2 separate regions of the Homo sapiens genome follow, and region 2 is linked to region 1. The links come from fine-mapping of genetic effects on gene expression. Tissue or cell type: whole blood. Region 1 holds a variant in brackets; the other region holds the start of a gene. All regions are shown on one strand. Distances are between the middles of the regions.

Region 1 (8,000 bases):
AATATCTTTTATTTCTTTTTGTCTTCATTTGGTAGAAAAGAGTAGTTGAACAGCTACGGAAGAACCTGATAGTAAAGCAAGAACAACCGGACAAGTTCCAAATACAGCCATTGCCACAATCTGAAAACAAACTACAAACAGCACAGCAGCAACCACTACAGCAACTACAACAACAGCAGCAGTACCACCACCACCACGCCCAGCAGTCAGCTGCAGCCTCTCCCAACCTGACTGCTTCACAGGTAAATGTGTGGATGGAACATTGCAGGCTGCAGATTGTAGACTGATTTGTTGTTGGTCATATAGAACTGGGTCCTGTCTCACACTATACTAAGCTCAGCTAGAACTAAACAAAAGTTATTTTGATTGCTTTTTTACAGTATAACCCAGATAAGTATCACTTGTAATCATTGGCAGAAGGAAATAACATTACTAAGAAGCAAAAATTAAATGATTTCCCACCTGTCTGAAGAAGGGGAGAAAGGTAGTCAATAACAAAAATCAATTATCTGCTTTACAGCAGAATTAAAACCTTATTTTGAATTTTTGGAGGTATTTATTTACACTTGTTCTAAAAGTTTGTGACTTGACCTCTTCTGGAATTCTTAGCAACTAGGCATAGAGCTATTCCAGGATCAGTGCTCTTGGGACCAGATAGAAAGAAGCATTTGGAAGGGTGCTATGGCTGGGCTCAGTAGCTCATGCCTGTAATCCCAGCACTTTGGGAGGCTGAGGTGGGCAGATCACTTGAGGTCAGGAGTTTGAGACCAGCCTGGCCAACGTGGTGAAACTTCATTTCTACTAAAAATACAAAAAAATTAGCCAGGCCTGGTAGCAGGCGCCTGTAATCCCAGCTACTCGGCAGGCTGAGGCAGGAGAATCACTTGAACCCAGGAGGCAGAGGCTGCAGTGGGCTGAGATCACACCACTGCACTCCAGCCTGGGCAACAGAGCAAAACTCCGTCTCAAAAAAAAAAAAAGAAGAGTGCTATATTTGCACTATTCATAGAAACACTCATTTTTAAGCCCATATTTATAAGAAAATGTATTTGTTCTAATACACTGATGGGAATCTGAAATGAAAGCTACAGGTCAAAACTAAAGAAATGGGAGCTTAATAAAATTCTAACTTGGTGTAGCTGTGCAAATGTTTTTACCAAAAAGGGCATTTAAACAAGCATACAATTTAAGAATCGTGAGGCAATCAAGATACACAAAAAGGGCGTATTTGGAAATGATATTCCAAATGATACTTGGATCCTTGAAGGTCACAGATCCCTTTATGACTCTGTTGAAAGCTATAGATCCCTCTCCAGAAGAATATACATTCACACTTAATACACTCATTTTTGCACACTTCAAGGACTTTGGGATCCTCTGAAACCTAAGCGTGGATACCTCTTACAACCAACACCAGGTCTTCACTGTGTCTTTATATAGAGAGAAAAAGAGTATAGTTCAGTTGGCTGTTCACTGTTTATGGACATTGGACTGGTTCATGTGCAACATTTTGCAAGTAAAGAATGAATTTTTTATAAGAACACTAAAGATAAGTTAACATTTAATAGAGGTTACTGTATACTGGCAGTCTCCTAAGTGTTTTACATAATGGACATACTCCTCACCCTAATCCTAAGAGGAAGTTATTATTATTACCATCTCTGTTTTTTTGTTTGTTTGTTTTTTTGTTATTGTTTTTTTGAGACGGAGTCTCACTGTGTCACCCAGGCTGGAGTGCAGTGGCGCAGTCTTGGCTCACTGCAACCTCCACCGTCTTGGGTTCAAACAATTCTTCTGCCTCAGCCTCCTGAGTAGCTGGGACTACAGGCGCGTGCCACCATGCCCGGCTAATTTTTGTATTTTTAGTAGAGACAGGGTTTTACCATATTGGCCAGGCTGGTCTCGAACTCCTGACCTCGTGGTCTGCCCGCCTCGGCCTCCCAAAGTGCTAGGATTACAGGTGTGAGCCACCGCAACCGGCCCACCATCTCTGTTTTTTAGAAGAGAAAACTAAGGCACAGAGAGGTTACATAATTTACCTAAGATCATGGAGGGTGGTATGTGGTGTAGCTAAGATTTGAACCTAGATGTTCTGGCTGAAAAATAGGTCCATTCAACTACTCTTCTGTACTGCCATTCAATACCAAAAAAAAAAAAAGAAGAAGAAGAAAAAAAAGAAAAAAGCAATACCAATACTGTATAAAACCAAAGAAGGAAAAAGAAAAATCCCTGTTGTAAATCAGATAGCTAGGACAGCCTACATAAATTTTTACCCTAATCACCACCCCAAGGCTATTTGGAAATTAGGCATTCAAAACTGACTTTAAAAATCTCCTTACCAGCACTTGTATTAGTTCTGAAAGAATGTTTAGAGGATAATTTTTGTTTAAGTTTTAAACAGAATTGGGTTAGGTTGTTCTCTTTCCAAAGTACAGGTTGATCAGAAAATGTTTATCTGAAAGGAGTGTGGTAGAATTCATTGTTTCCTGTTACATAGGAGTTTTCTGTCTTAACCCATGGAAACATCCTGTTCAAGTAACATTTTATGTTATAAAAATCAAAGGAGGCTAGGCACAGTGGCACACGCCTGTAATCCCAACACTTTGGGAGGCCGAGGTGGGTGGATCACTTTAGGTCAGGAGTTTGAGACCAGCCTGGCCAACATGGCAAAACTCCATCTCTACTAAAAATACAAAAATTAGCCATGCGTGGTAACATATACCTGTAATCCCAGCTCCTCAGGAGGCTTAGGCATGAGAATCACTTGAACCCGGGCAACAGAGGTTCCAGTGAGCCGAGATCGTACTGCACTCCATGCTGGGCGACAGAGCAAGACTCCATCTCAAAAAAAAAAAAAAAAAAAAATCAAAGGAAGCATTTCCAAAATATAATAGCTTTTCCTTTCCCTGGTAGTCTGTGTTGCTTTGGGATGGTGAATGGTAAGAGGCCCAGGGCTGCCTCCAAAACAGTGTTGTATAGCACCTCTCCATCCAGTAGCCCACCTGACATATTTAATTGATTTTGCCAACCTTTTTTAAATATTGTTTTATTTAATGCAAATGATGCAAATGTTTAATGTTAAAAACCAAAAGGATCCTCTGAGTTTTTGGTTTTTGAGTTTACAGGTAAACTACAAATCTGGTTTTTGGTGTTTGTTTGTTTGTTTTTTAGACAGGATCTGGCTCTTTGACCCAGGCTGGAGTGCAGTGGCACAATCTCAGCTCACTGAAACCCCTGCCCCAAGCCATCCTCCCACCTCAGCCTCCCGGGTAGCTGGGACTACAGGCACAGGCCACCATGCCCAGCTAATTTTTGTATTTTTTGTAGAAACAGGGTTTCACCATGTTTGCCAGGCTGGTCTCAAACTCCGGAGCTCAAGTGATCCACCCATCTCGGTCTCCCACAGTGTTGGGATTACAGACATGAGCCACTGCGCTTGGCACTACTAACCTATTTATTGGTACTACCAATCTATGTGGTAGATTCTGGTATACAAAGAGCAGTGGTCCCTGCCAAAAGTCTGGTATATCATTATTAATAATTTTTATTCATTCTGTAAATATTTGTGGAGTTCCTACTGTGTGCAAGCACTGTTCTAGGTAATGTGGAGACTAAATTCACAAATCAGAGAGTTTCTATTTTCAAGAATTAAAAAAATTTAAGATGTAGAGAAATTTTGAGGACAGAGTAATTTTGACTAGAGGGATCAGAAAGTACTTGTCAAGGAGGGTTGCATCTGAGCAGGGCCCTGTCAGATGAATGGGATTTTAGTGATAGAGCAAAGGGGAAAGAGCTTCACAAGTATAGAGAGTAGTATGAACAAAAGGATGGCGTCAAAATAGTAAATGTATGCCCTGGGAATCGTAAGTAGGCTGGTGTGGTTGGAGTGTGTGATCCACGAAACGATGGAGAGGAGATAAGGCCAAGCCCTCCAAAGCATGCCAGAGCTTCTGGGTTTTTTAACAGTCATAGGGAAGTCTAAGGCAAGGACAAATGGGAGGTTATATATGGCATATATTAAATACATATATTTAATGTATGAGGGCAAGGACGAATGGGAGGTTATATATGGCATATATTAAATACACAACTTCAGAAAGAATTAAATATTAAGTAGCAATCGGGGGGCCAGGGGGAGATGCTAAGAGGAGAAAGTTTTTTATTCTAAGTCGGGTGATTGGCATATACCAAGGCGTAGAGAAAGCAATGAGGAATTCTTTTTGGGAGAGGGAATGGGAACAGTTTGCTTTACTTAGTTAACGTCAACTCATGCTTATAGGTGTATTTTAAAAGTTTTCCAATCTACAGAAAAAGTGAAAGAATAGAACAGTTAAATACAGGTATACTCTCCAACCTATATTCACAGCCCTCTAATTTTTAATGGCATAATGCAAATGTAAAGAAGAAAGCAGTTAATAAAACCAAATGGAAAACAAACCTTTGGAGACAAAAAAGGGAAAAGTTTCTATTTGTGGTTGTTTGAGTATACATCATGACTGCATTCAAAATTAAACCAGCAAAATAATATAAAACAGATGTGGAAGTTAGATCCCATAGTAATAATCCCTTAAATTCTGATTTGTATATTGGAGTTCATCTGTTTTATTTTATTTTGTTTTGTTTT[A/GTTTTGTTTTGTTTTA]TTTTATTTTATTTTATTTTATTTTATTTTATTTTATTTTATTTTATTTTATTTTGTTTTCTTTGAGACAGGGTCTCACTGTGTCACCTAGGCTGGAGTGCAATGGTGCAATTACGGTTCACCTCAGCCTTGACCTCCCAGGCTTAGGTGATCCTTCCACCTCAGCCTCTCAAGTAGTTGGGACTACAGGTGTGTGTCACCATGCCCAACTAATTTTTGTATTTTTTGTAGAGGTGGAGTTTCACTATGTTGCCAAGGCTGGTCTCAAACTCCTAGGCTTAAGTGATCCGCCCACCTTAGCCTCCCAAAGTGCTGGGATTATAGGCATGACCCACTGTGTCCAGCCTGAGTCCATCTGTTTTAAATCAATACTTCATATTTGGCAGGCAGACAACAATGACTTAGCAAATAAATAAATAAATAAAAAGGATTTTGCTATTGGCAGTATTTGCCATGCCATGTATTTCTGCATTAACTTCTAGCTCATGCAATTTGGGTTTTGTCAAAATAAAGGACCCCATCATGAAACTGTGGAGAAACAGCTACCTTCTCTTAAAGGTGATCATACTTAGACACTGTTAACTAGCTAAAAACAAATCACAGCTTTCATATAAATAAATCTCTTGGTTGGGTGTGGTGGCTCATGCCTGTAATCCCAACACTTTGGGAGGCCGATGTGGGAGGATTACGTGAGAGCGAGTTCTAGACCAGCCTGGGCAACATAGCGAGATCACGTCTCTACTAAAAATAAAAAAAATTAGCCAGGTGTGGTAGCACCTGCCTTTAGTCCAAGGTACTCAGGAGAATGAGATGGGAGGATTACTTGAGCCCAGGAGGTCAAGGCTGCAGTGAGCTGTGATTACGCCACTGCACTCTAGCCTGGGTGACAGAGCAAGACCCTGTCTCAAAAATAAATAAACAGCAATAATAATAATAATAATAATAATAATAATAATAATTTGTCGTTTGACACCTTTCTTCTCTATGTCTCTTCTTCCTCCTTCCAGAACAGTTCAGACATTTTAATTAGACTTGGATTTCAAAGTTCTAAATTCCTTTTGTCATCTAAACCCAGGAGTTTGGTTTGTGTTCCCTAATACTTGGGAAAGAAGAAGCACCAGAGTAGGGGTAAAGATCTAAGCACTACCTGGGTCTTGGTGTCAATAAATAGTAAATATATTCTTCAAAAAGTTTTCACTGAAGCATACAGTACTAGGTCTTGTGCCTGTATACTAGACAAACAGGTATGTAGATGCTAGAAATCATGTAGTGAAATCAGCCATAACCATAGTTGTAAAATAAAAGAAAACTGCTAACCTAAGATGTGAACAAACTTGTTAGGTTTCAGTGTTTTTAAAGTGTTGGGTTAATGGTAAGTATATAATTCAGGTGAGTTTGAGGCTTTAGTCAGTATTTTGTAGAATCATCAGTTTAGAGTTATTCAAAATATTGATGATTTACTTGAAACAAAAGTACATTGACTTCTCTTAAAGCAGTAACAACATGCGTTTCTTTAAAATCCATGTCAGTGAGTTCTGACTAGAGCTTTACTCCCACAATCCACGATAGCACTGGATTGAACGCCATCTGGTGTGACTGGATCACCACTTCAGAAGTTCTTTAAATCGACATGTTTTAAATGGAAAACAAGGGCTAATACACTGTGGTAAAAACACTTACTACAAATTGCTGATAATGCAGTCAGTCCTTGCTGTTACACTACTATTAATATACCATTTCTAATAATAAATAGCATTTGGCTTTTATTTGGTTTTCATCACTGATCGAAGATAGGTGATCCACTGCACCCCAAAATAAATATCAGTGTTCCGCGTTTACTCTCATTTCACATTTAAGGAGGCAATGGCAAAGAGAATAAGCCACTTAGCGAAGAGGAAACAAAGATTTGGATGATGATCTTAAAAGATTAGATAATATGTGTATATGCGCATAAGGCAGAAAAATAGAGATAAGTAACTCCCTAGAAGCAAACAACTTAATACCCCTAAGTAGAAAAGCATAGACACTGAAATAGAAATTCATAAGGGAAGTTGTCCAGATGTGTTTCTGAGAGAATGGAGGTACTTTTCACTGGTATTGCACAGTGATAGAACTTTCTGTGATGTTGGAAATACCGTCTATCTCCACTGTCCAGTTTGGTCACCACTAACCACATGCGACTTTTGACATTTGAAATGTGGCTAGTGCAACTGAGGAGCTGATGTTTTAATTTTGTTTTTGTTTTAATTAATTACATTTAATTAATTTAGTTTTTATTTTTATTTATTTATTTTTTTTTGAGACGAAGTCTCACTCTTGTCGCCCAGGCTGGAGTGCAATGGTGTGATCTCGGCTCACTGCAGCCTCTGCCTCACGGGTTCAAGTGATTCCCCTGCCTCAGCCTCCCGAGTAGCTGGGATTACAGGCGCCTGCCACCACACCTGGCTAATTTTTTTTTTTGTTTTTGAGACGGAGACTCGCTCTCTCACCAGGCTGAGTGCAGTGGCACAATTTCTGCTCACTGCAACCTCCGCCTCCCGGGTTCAAGCAATTCTCTTGCCTCAGCCTCCCGAGTAGCTGGGATTACAGGTGCCTGCCACCAGGCCTGGCTGATTTTTGTATTTTTAGTAGAGATGGGGTTTCACCATGTTGGCCAGGCTGGTCTCGAACTCCTGACCTCAGGCAATCCACCCGCATCGGCCTCCCAAAGTGCTGGGATTACAGGCACGAGCCACCGCACCTGGTCTACTTTTTGTATTCTTAGTAGAGACGGGCTTTCGCCATGTTGACCAGGCTAGTCTCGAACTCCTGACCTCAGACGATCCACCTGCCTCGGTTTCCCAAAGTGCTGGGATTACATGTGTGAGCCACTGCGCCTGGCCAATTAATTTCCTTTTAAATAGCAACTTGTGGCTAGTGGCTGCCAAATCAGACAGTGCAAATATACAGTAAAGGTGGAGTAGTATCAAAATCAGAATCAATGAGTTTGACCAGATAAATTTTCATGTTCCTGAAATGTTGATCTATCTCCAGATAGATGTTTAGGCCATATAATGAGTTTGTTTATATTTTTTTGTTTGTTTTGTAACTGATTCCTTTAATTATTCTAGTAAAAAGTCTAGAAAAGTACAGCTTCAAAGCTGCAATAGCACTTAAGGAGCATCAGTCAAGTCCTCTCACCTCAGTTCATCTTCTGATCTCTCAGGCTTTTAAAACTCAGATGTTTGTTTTCACCTTGTCATGTTTCATTGCATCTTTGATCACTTCTGCAGCAGTTCTCCAGAGAAAAGATTATAGGTAGTAACTCATAATATCCCTTTAGTATCAAGAACTGGTATTTACTATATACTCATTGGCTAACATGTTTCATTATCTG
Region 2 (8,143 bases), 150 kb before region 1:
GTTGAATGTCTCAAAGCAGCTTTTGACAGTAAACTTTCAATTTCTAGCTTATTTCTGGAATTTCTGCTAACATACTAATTGTTATCTTTTTTCCTTTAACACTTAAGCCATTTAGCCCTTACAACAATCTCACAAGGTATTATCTTTATGTTTAAGGAACACCAGGGTTCAGAAAGCCTAGGTATTTTGTATAAGGCCACAGAGCTAGTGTGTGCCCACAGAGTGCCTGTGTCAAGCACACAGAGATGCTGAGAGCTTGAGAAAGACCCACCAAAGCTTATAATGCCAACCTCACAATCTTCAATCAACACGAGAGTCCCTGAATCCCACATGCACATCTGCACCATCAAAATACTGGGATGCCACCTGTTCACCTTCTTGAGTTATGTTAACTAAGAAAATGAATTTAAGGGCACAGTGAAAATGCATTATACAGTTCTATGTGCCAGGACTGTGCTAAGCACGTTACATGAATTATTTTATTCAGTCTTCTCGAGAGCCCTACTTAGTAGGGTTTTTGTTGTTGTTTTTGAGACAGGGCCTCACTCTGTCACCCAGCTGGAGTGCAGTGGAGCAATCTCAGCTTACTGCAGCCTCAACCCCTTGGGCTCAAGTGATCCTCCCACATCAGTCTCCAGAGTAGCAGGGACTACAGGTGCGTGGCACCATGCCCAGCTAATTTTTGCACATTTTGTAGAGATAGGGTTTCACCATGTTGACCAGGCTGGTCTTGAACACCTGAGCTCAAGGGATCCGCCAGCCTCGGTCTCCCGAAGTGCTGGGATTACAGGCATGCAACACCTTGCCCGGGGCTGGAAGTAGGTATTCTAAGCTGCAATTTACAAGATAGGAAAACTGAGGCTGTTAACAGAGATTAAGCAGCCTGCCCCAAAGTGCCTTAGTTGAAGGAGCAATACTTCCAGAGTATTTTTTTTCCATTAAGTTTGGTAGTTACAGGAGTGTTAGACACTCTTATATTCAGCTAAAAATATTTTAATTAAATATCTAGACAATGACTTTGCATAACATTGATTTTTGGTTGCTACCACACATCTTAATAACCAAGCACCCTTTGGTACAAGTTCAGTGGTTAGTCCACCTTAAGTCTTTTTTTATAGCAAGGATTGGTAAATGACAGCCCGTGGGCCCCATCCAGCTCACTGCCTGGTTTTGTGAAGTCCCCAAACTGGGAATGTGGTGCTTTTTAAAAAATTTTTCTTAATGACTGAAAAAAATCAAAAGAATATTTCAAGACATGTGAAAAGTACATTAAATCCAAATGTCAAGGCCTATAAATACAAATTGTATTAGAACATAGCCAGATTCATTCATTTACATGTTGTCGTATAGATGCTTTTGGGTTATAACAGCATAGAGTGGAGAAGTTGTGACAGGGACTGTATGGGATGCAAAATCTACGATATTTACTATCTGGGCTTTTACAGAAAAAGTTTGCTAACCCCAGTTCTATAGCATGATACAATTAGAGGTTCTGGATTTTTTTCTATGAAATTCCAAAAAAAATTTTACCTTCTTTTTCCAGAAAGAACACCAAAGCAGTCTTCCTATGAAAAAAGGTTGATAGCCTGGGATGATTTGAAATCACACCATTAGGTTATAGTTCCAGTGACTGGCCAGTGGGTCCAGCTTGAAAGACCCCCTCCCTCATTTTAAATACATTACAGTTAGCTCTAGATGGTAAAGCTGGGTCTTACTACCCAACCTGTCCTCCCGTTATTCATCTTGACTGCGTTATGGGTTTAGTTTCACAACATTATGAGTTCATCTAGGCTTCTTGAATCATTTATAGGAATTTTCATTTTCACTCTCAAACTCTTACACTTTCGCTGCTGTGAATTTTTTTTAACATAAAGCTCAGACTACTAAATGGCCTACACATGTACCATAAAGTCCATATTTTATTTTTTAAGAAATCAGAATTTTTAAAAATTGCTTTTTCTTGAGAAACTAAACTTAATTTTGCAGGTCACGAAAGTAAAAAAATACCTTCATATCCAATGATCTCAAAGCACCTCTTGTGAAAATACATAACAAGGTAATAGAAATATTATTTAATGGAAAAGATGTGACTAGTAAAGTCCAAGGCTATTTCTGGTTCTGCGAATGACTCACTTTGACTTTGGGCAAATCATCTCACCACTGTTGCTCTTTATCTGCAAAAACTGGATTTCATGCCTATGGGAGTTGCATGGCTAATCAATGCCTGGAAAATGCGTAGTGGCAGTTGCTACAAAAGTGCTGAGCTTTAAAAACAAAACCCCCCACCCCCCCATTTGTATTCAGTTGAGGTTGGGGTTTATTGTTATTTAACATTCGAAGGCCAACACTATGTTAAGTCCAGAGTGCTGCACAGATCAGATAATATCACTGTCCAGTAGGGGTTTTTTTTAATCTAAGATTTTTTACTTTTAAAAAATTTATTGTGGTTGGGGGTTTAGAATCCGGTAATACATCCATACAAAAACGTTAAGCTTCAAGTTGAAAACTATCGATTCGAAAATCTAAATAAACCCCCTCCAAAAAAAAAAAAAAAGGCCCTCCCCCGCCCCGCCAAGAAATCTCTCAAAACAAGAATTCTTCTGATGTTTTTCTCCTCCCTGCAATTCTCCATGTTACAGTCCTTGGAGGTAGAATAGGCATAAAATACTTTCACTAATAAAATATGACAAACCGCCGGATTATACGTGGCCGATTCCCAGTGATTGCCCTGCTACACAAAGCAGAAAAGTAAATGCCATCATCCCCCTTAGAACAAAAGAACTTAGGAATAAAAAACATGGAGAGGGGGGAGAAAGCAGCAATAAATAAAGGTGAGCGAAGGCCCCCGTCCCCCGCCCCTCCCGGGAGCGAGTGCTGGACTAAGTACTGCTAATAAAGTGGTTCAAGGGTAGTTATTTGGAAAGGGGGCGGGGTGGCGAGGGGAGGGAGCGGGCGAGCGGCGGCCGGGGATTGCATGTTGCATTCGACTTGAGGTTGCATCTTTCTCCTGTTGCCTGGACCACGCTCCCCCATTGCAGTGCTTCCCCATCACTTCTCCTCGCTCCTGCCCCTCACGGCTTTCCCCCCCCCCCTTCAAACTGCTGTTGCACTGGAGGGAGTTGGGGCCGCTCTGGAGCCCCTTTGCAGCTCCCGCCGGCGGGAGGGGGGAGTTGGGCTCGGGCCGCGGAGTTGGGGGGGCCGCCGCGGGCTCCGGCCTCGCCTCGGCTGCGGCTGCACGGGAGCCGAGCTGCGGCGCTGCACGGGCCCCGGAGTTTGGCTGCCTTCGCCGCCGCTCGGTGCTCGGCCCCATCACCGCCGCCGCCGCCGCCGCTGCACTGGAGTTTGGCTGCCGCTGCCCTACTTCACTCTAGTTTAGTTTCACTCACTTTACATCCGGGTTTTTTCCCTAGGCAATGGGTGCCGCAGCACACCCCGTTCCTTAGGCAAAGTGAAATAAATTCGCCGCACCGACACGTCAAGTAGTCCGCCCGCCCGAGCGCCGCCGCGGGCCCCCGTCGCCCCCCCCGCCGACGCCCCACCGCCCCCGGTGGGGGGACCCGAGCGTCCCGGGAGCCGCGGGCCGAGGCGCGGGGGCCCGGGCCGGCCGCCGTACCACTCCGCCCGGCGGCCCCCTCCCTCCCCGCCGCGGCCCGCTCTCCCCCGGCGCCTCCTCTCCCCTCGCCCTCGTCCCCGCTTTCCCAGCCCCAGTCCCTCTCGCCCGGCTCTCGGGAGCGGCGGGGGCGCGCACGGCGGCGGCGGCGGCGGGCCGGCGGGGCCGCGCGGCGGGCTCCCGCGCGGGCGAGTGTGTCTGGGCCTGGGCGGAGGGATCCCCGGGCTGAGGCGGCGGAGGTGCTGCGGCCCGGGGCCGGGTGGTGAATGGGCTGGTGGTGCTCGCTGCTGCTGCTGAGAGGAGGAGGAGGATGAAGAGTTGGGCTTGTTTGTCTCCTACAGTTTCTCTCCTGCTGCTCTGATTCCCCCCTCCCGATTCCGGCCCGGGGCCTGTGTGTGTCCCTCCTGGAGGAGGAGGAGGATCCAGTTCCTCCCCCCAACCCCCTCCTCCCCACCCCCCCTTGCCTGGGGAAGAGGAGGAAAGAAACAGCCCAGAGAGAGAGAGAGAGAGAGAGTGAGTGAGAGAGAGAGGAGAGGAGAGGAGGAGGAGGAGGAGGGAGAAGGGAACAACCTACCATCTTAACACACTAATATCTAAAAAGTGCGAGAGGCCCAGAGCAGCAGCAGAAGCAGCAGCAGCAGCTCCAGCTTCTTCCCTCCCTCCCCATGAAGAAGAGTTCCCTCCTCCTCCTCCTCCTGCTTCTCCTGCTCAGAGTTCCTGCCTCCAGCTGCCAGGGGGGACAGCCAGCCAGCAGCAGGAGGGTGCAGTATCCCAGCTTTTCCATTCTCTCTTCTTCTCACTCTCCTCTCTCTCTTTTTTTCTGGAGTAGCTCTATTTCCCCTCCCTCCCCCTTCCCCCTCTGCCTCTCTCCTCTCTCCCTCTGTCTTGTCGCTGGTGTTTGTCTCTGGGAGGATCAGGGGCTGCCTGCTTGGAGTTTGTTGTGGGGGGAGGTAGGGGGAGGGGAGGGGTGTGTGGGAGGGAGGAGGGAAAGGGGGGTGTTCTCGTCAGGACCCCTCAGTCAACTTGAGATTTGAGCAATAACTTCCCCTTCGGGGCGCCCCCCTGCGTGCCCTTCCCATACCTCCCCCCCGAAAAAAAAGACAATGGGAAAACCTTGGCTCCCCCCCCTCCCCTCTGCCCTCCACCCCTCCCCAGGATAAATTGGAAGTAAGTTTATGAGCAGCCTCGGAAGCCTGGGCGCAGAGTGCAGGGCCGGAGCCGGTGACAGAGGCGGCGTGCCGGGGGCGGCGGGGAGGGGGCGTCACATTGTCCCGGCGGGGGGCCGGCCGGGGGCTGCGGGCGGGGGCGGGGGGCACGGAGCCTCGCCCGCCCCCCCTCGGCTGTCCCTCGGCCGGGGAGGTAGCTGGGGCTCCTCCATCCCCCCCACCCCACCCCGGGATGCTGTCGGGGGGAAGTTTTTATTATGATTATTTATTTAATTAAAAAAAATTTTTTTTTGGAAAACCATCTTGTTTGTTGACTGAGGGATCTGGTTTAAAAAAAAAAAAGCTGCGGCTGCTGACGCTGCCGGGCCCCAGTGTGTGTGTTTGTGTGTGTGTGAGTGTGAGTGTGTTGGTGCATTTGTCTTGGGTGGCCGGAGCAGCGTTGGGGAAATTCCGCTTATTCTTCTTCTTCTGCAACTTGTTATTCCGGAGAGTCTGCCTGCACCCCTCACCCCGGGGCCGGCCCTCCCGCATTCGCCCCCGCCGCCGGCGGCCGCGGGGCGCCCCCGGGACCCCGAGCGGGCCGGGGCGGACAGGCCGCTCCGAGAGGGGCCGCGGCCGCCCCTCCCCCGCCCGCGCCCCCGCCGGGGGGAGGGGCGCGCGGAGTGGGACTCTTTCCGTTTGGTCCAGCCCCGTCGTGCACGCAGTTCCCAACACTTCTCGTCATCCTCTCTTTGGTCTCTTTATTCTGCTGAGCGGTGCTGTTAGGATTTCTTTTTTTTTTTTTTCCCCTGACCACGTTCGCGATGGTGGGTAGCAGCAAGGTGGCCCTGGTAGGGGAGGGGTTGGTATCGAGATTGGGCACCGGAGGAGAACGCCTTCTTTCAACTTTGTCTGTGGCTTGCACCCCCGGAGAAGGCCACAGGCCGGTTGTCGGGTGCAGATGTGCCGAGAGTGATTTCTAAGTAGTTGAGTTGTTGTGATGAGGGTACGACTGCTAATGGTCGGCAGGTTTTGTTTTCATTGGTGAATCTGGTGTCATCATATTCCGGTCATATGTTGAAATATTCTTTGTTTAGGTCTGGAAGTAGAGGATCTCACTCTGCACGTCCACATTGTGTTGTTTTTAAAATGATGTCTCTGGGAGTCTGGATTTCTAGAATTTCAAATCTGAGTGAAGGTCCGGGCATGTGTGGGCCTCATCACCTGGCCTTGACAGTGAACTTTGTGGCTGTGTTTCAGATTTCAAAGATTTGCCCCATAGCTGGGGAAGGAGTTGTGCATTTTTGCTAATAGTCGGTGTCAGGAATGTAGATGCTCGAGCTGGGAAAGTTAGAGAGGGAAGAACATTTATATATAAATAATGGATAGTTGAATATTAGAATCAGATTAATTTGGGCTGATGAAAGTTTTTTTTTTTTAAAGCAGTTGTGCACTCTGGGAAGGAAGTCTTTTCACAGGTTCACTTGATAGGGATTCTTTAAGGCGAGGGGCTGGAATTATCTCCTTTTTGAGCGAGTTCTCACCAACATCTGTAGCTTTATTGAGGGCCTGGTAAGGGTACTGAAATTGAGGCTAAACCATGTAAGCGTACTTTTCAGTGTTTATGATATTTGTTTACATCTGGTGTTCACTCTAAGCAATAGAAATAAATAGGTCAGCTTTGCTTTTGGTCTTTGAAGACTGGCCCCCTCCTTCCTTTTTTAAGTTTCACAATTTATTTGGTTTACAGCATTGTTGGAAACTGTTACTACATTTTTACTGGAAATACTATTATTCATTTTAATTTTGGTAAGTTCCTTCTTATTCTCTTCTTCTGTCTTTACTTGTTTATGGAATCGGTGTTGTGGGCTTAAAACTAGTTTATTTTAGGGGGTCATTAAAAATGTCTGAAAAATACATTTTCAAATCCCAGGACCTATCTTTTCATGGCAAAGAGGAAATTTTGTGTACAGTTATGCTAATGTTTATAAAAAAATTTCTGTACTTAAAACGTTTGTAGATGTACAACTATCCTTAAGTGAAGAGCATAGTAATAGTGCACAAAGTTCTCAAAACACAAACATCTGGCTAACATGTTACGAATATTCCAGGGGCTTTTTTTTTTTTTTTTTTAACATCAGACTTTTGCTTTTGGTAACATAATAGTATTTACAGTTTGACTGACATTGCTTGGCTGCCCATAATAAAGTGTTTTGCTTGGGTGCTATTGAATGCTTTTTAACTTAGTTTTTAGACAATTTTGCAGGCTTTATTTAAGCATGTTGTATTTTGGACTGAGGCAAGTCTTTGTGGAACTGGAGTAGTAATAGATGAAAAAGACACCTACCTGGGCTAAATTGTATTTTTAGAAGGTATAAGTGATGGATGGGGCCTATTTCTTTTAGCTTTGAAGGGTCCATCCTTTTTCCTATTCAGTCTTCTGGAAGGAGCTGCCTCTGAAATACTCTTCTTCTGCTTACATGAAGATCTCTAAATGCTATCCAGCAGGAGGTGCTACAGCAAGATAAAGGAAATTTTTGAATTTTGAGGGTCTTGCTACTTATTACAGCTCTGCTTAGCTTCAGCTAAGCAACAGGATTAACACCTTAAAGTTCCAGAAAGATTTTGAGTAAGTCCATTTAAAAATTCCATTCATAAATAATGTTTGCTACTTGAAAGTGAAGTCTTTGACTGTACAAAGTAGATGTGCGATTGCGGATAGTATAAGGATTCTGGCCCTTGGTACAGAGCACTGTTTAGAATTATTTTATTTGGAAGGGGAATTAGTCTTGTGTTGATGAGTGGGATGTTGAGCATGTATTTTAAAAAATTATTTGTAATTGTTATAAACAAAAGTAGTTGGTATGATTTAGGGCTTTAAGCCTTGTTATCATCCCTATAATATTAATACAAATAGGATATAGAGTAGTTGAGATTTTGGAAAGGGGTATAGTGTGTTGAAAAAATTTTAGACTTCTTGTAGTTTTTTCCCCTCGGATTTACAGACTATGATTCTAATATAGATCAATTTTTAGGCACTCGGCTTTATAAATACATATGGTTGATGTACTTAAGTTAGCCTGCAAAGACTGAGATTCTTGAACTGTAAGTCAAGTTGTATCAGTGGTAGGTCATTGTTGATGTAACAGTAACTGCATAAAGATGAATATAGCTACTTTAACAGTTTCATAGCATTTATAGCACATGGTCCTTTGAAACTCTGTTAGTGTTAGGTGAATTGATTATCACTGAAAATATCATGCCACTGTGGTTGCTTGTAAAGTTTTGTGTCGAAGTTTTAAAAATTTGGGGATGCTAGAAAGTTTGATAAATCTGCTTTGAATTTTGTCTATTTTGTAGGCAAAATACTGTTTTCTCAGTAAGACCA

Evidence for each region. PIP is the estimated chance that this variant, and not a neighbour inherited with it, causes the effect.
Region 2: it holds the start of PHF21A, and the variant in region 1 is fine-mapped to the expression of PHF21A in whole blood (INTERVAL, PIP 0.96).

What each region holds. Positions count from the first base shown.
Region 1 is chr11:45,972,002-45,980,001 of GRCh38, reverse strand. PHF21A (PHD finger protein 21A) reads left to right here. Exons shown (of 19, transcript NM_001352027.3): 7 at 36-242. Among named protein-coding and RNA genes, the nearest start is that of LARGE2, 53 kb to the right of the region's middle. The variant A/GTTTTGTTTTGTTTTA (reference allele first, on the strand shown) is at 4,625.
Region 2 is chr11:46,117,163-46,125,305 of GRCh38, reverse strand. It overlaps PHF21A (PHD finger protein 21A), which reads left to right and starts at 3,852. Exons shown (of 19, transcript NM_001352027.3): 1 at 3,852-4,371. LOC105376661 (a long non-coding RNA gene) reads right to left here and starts at 3,161. Exons shown (of 3, transcript XR_931252.4): 1 at 1-3,161. RefSeq lists silencers at 3,020-3,329, 3,770-3,829, 5,243-5,322, 5,393-5,452, 5,636-5,793.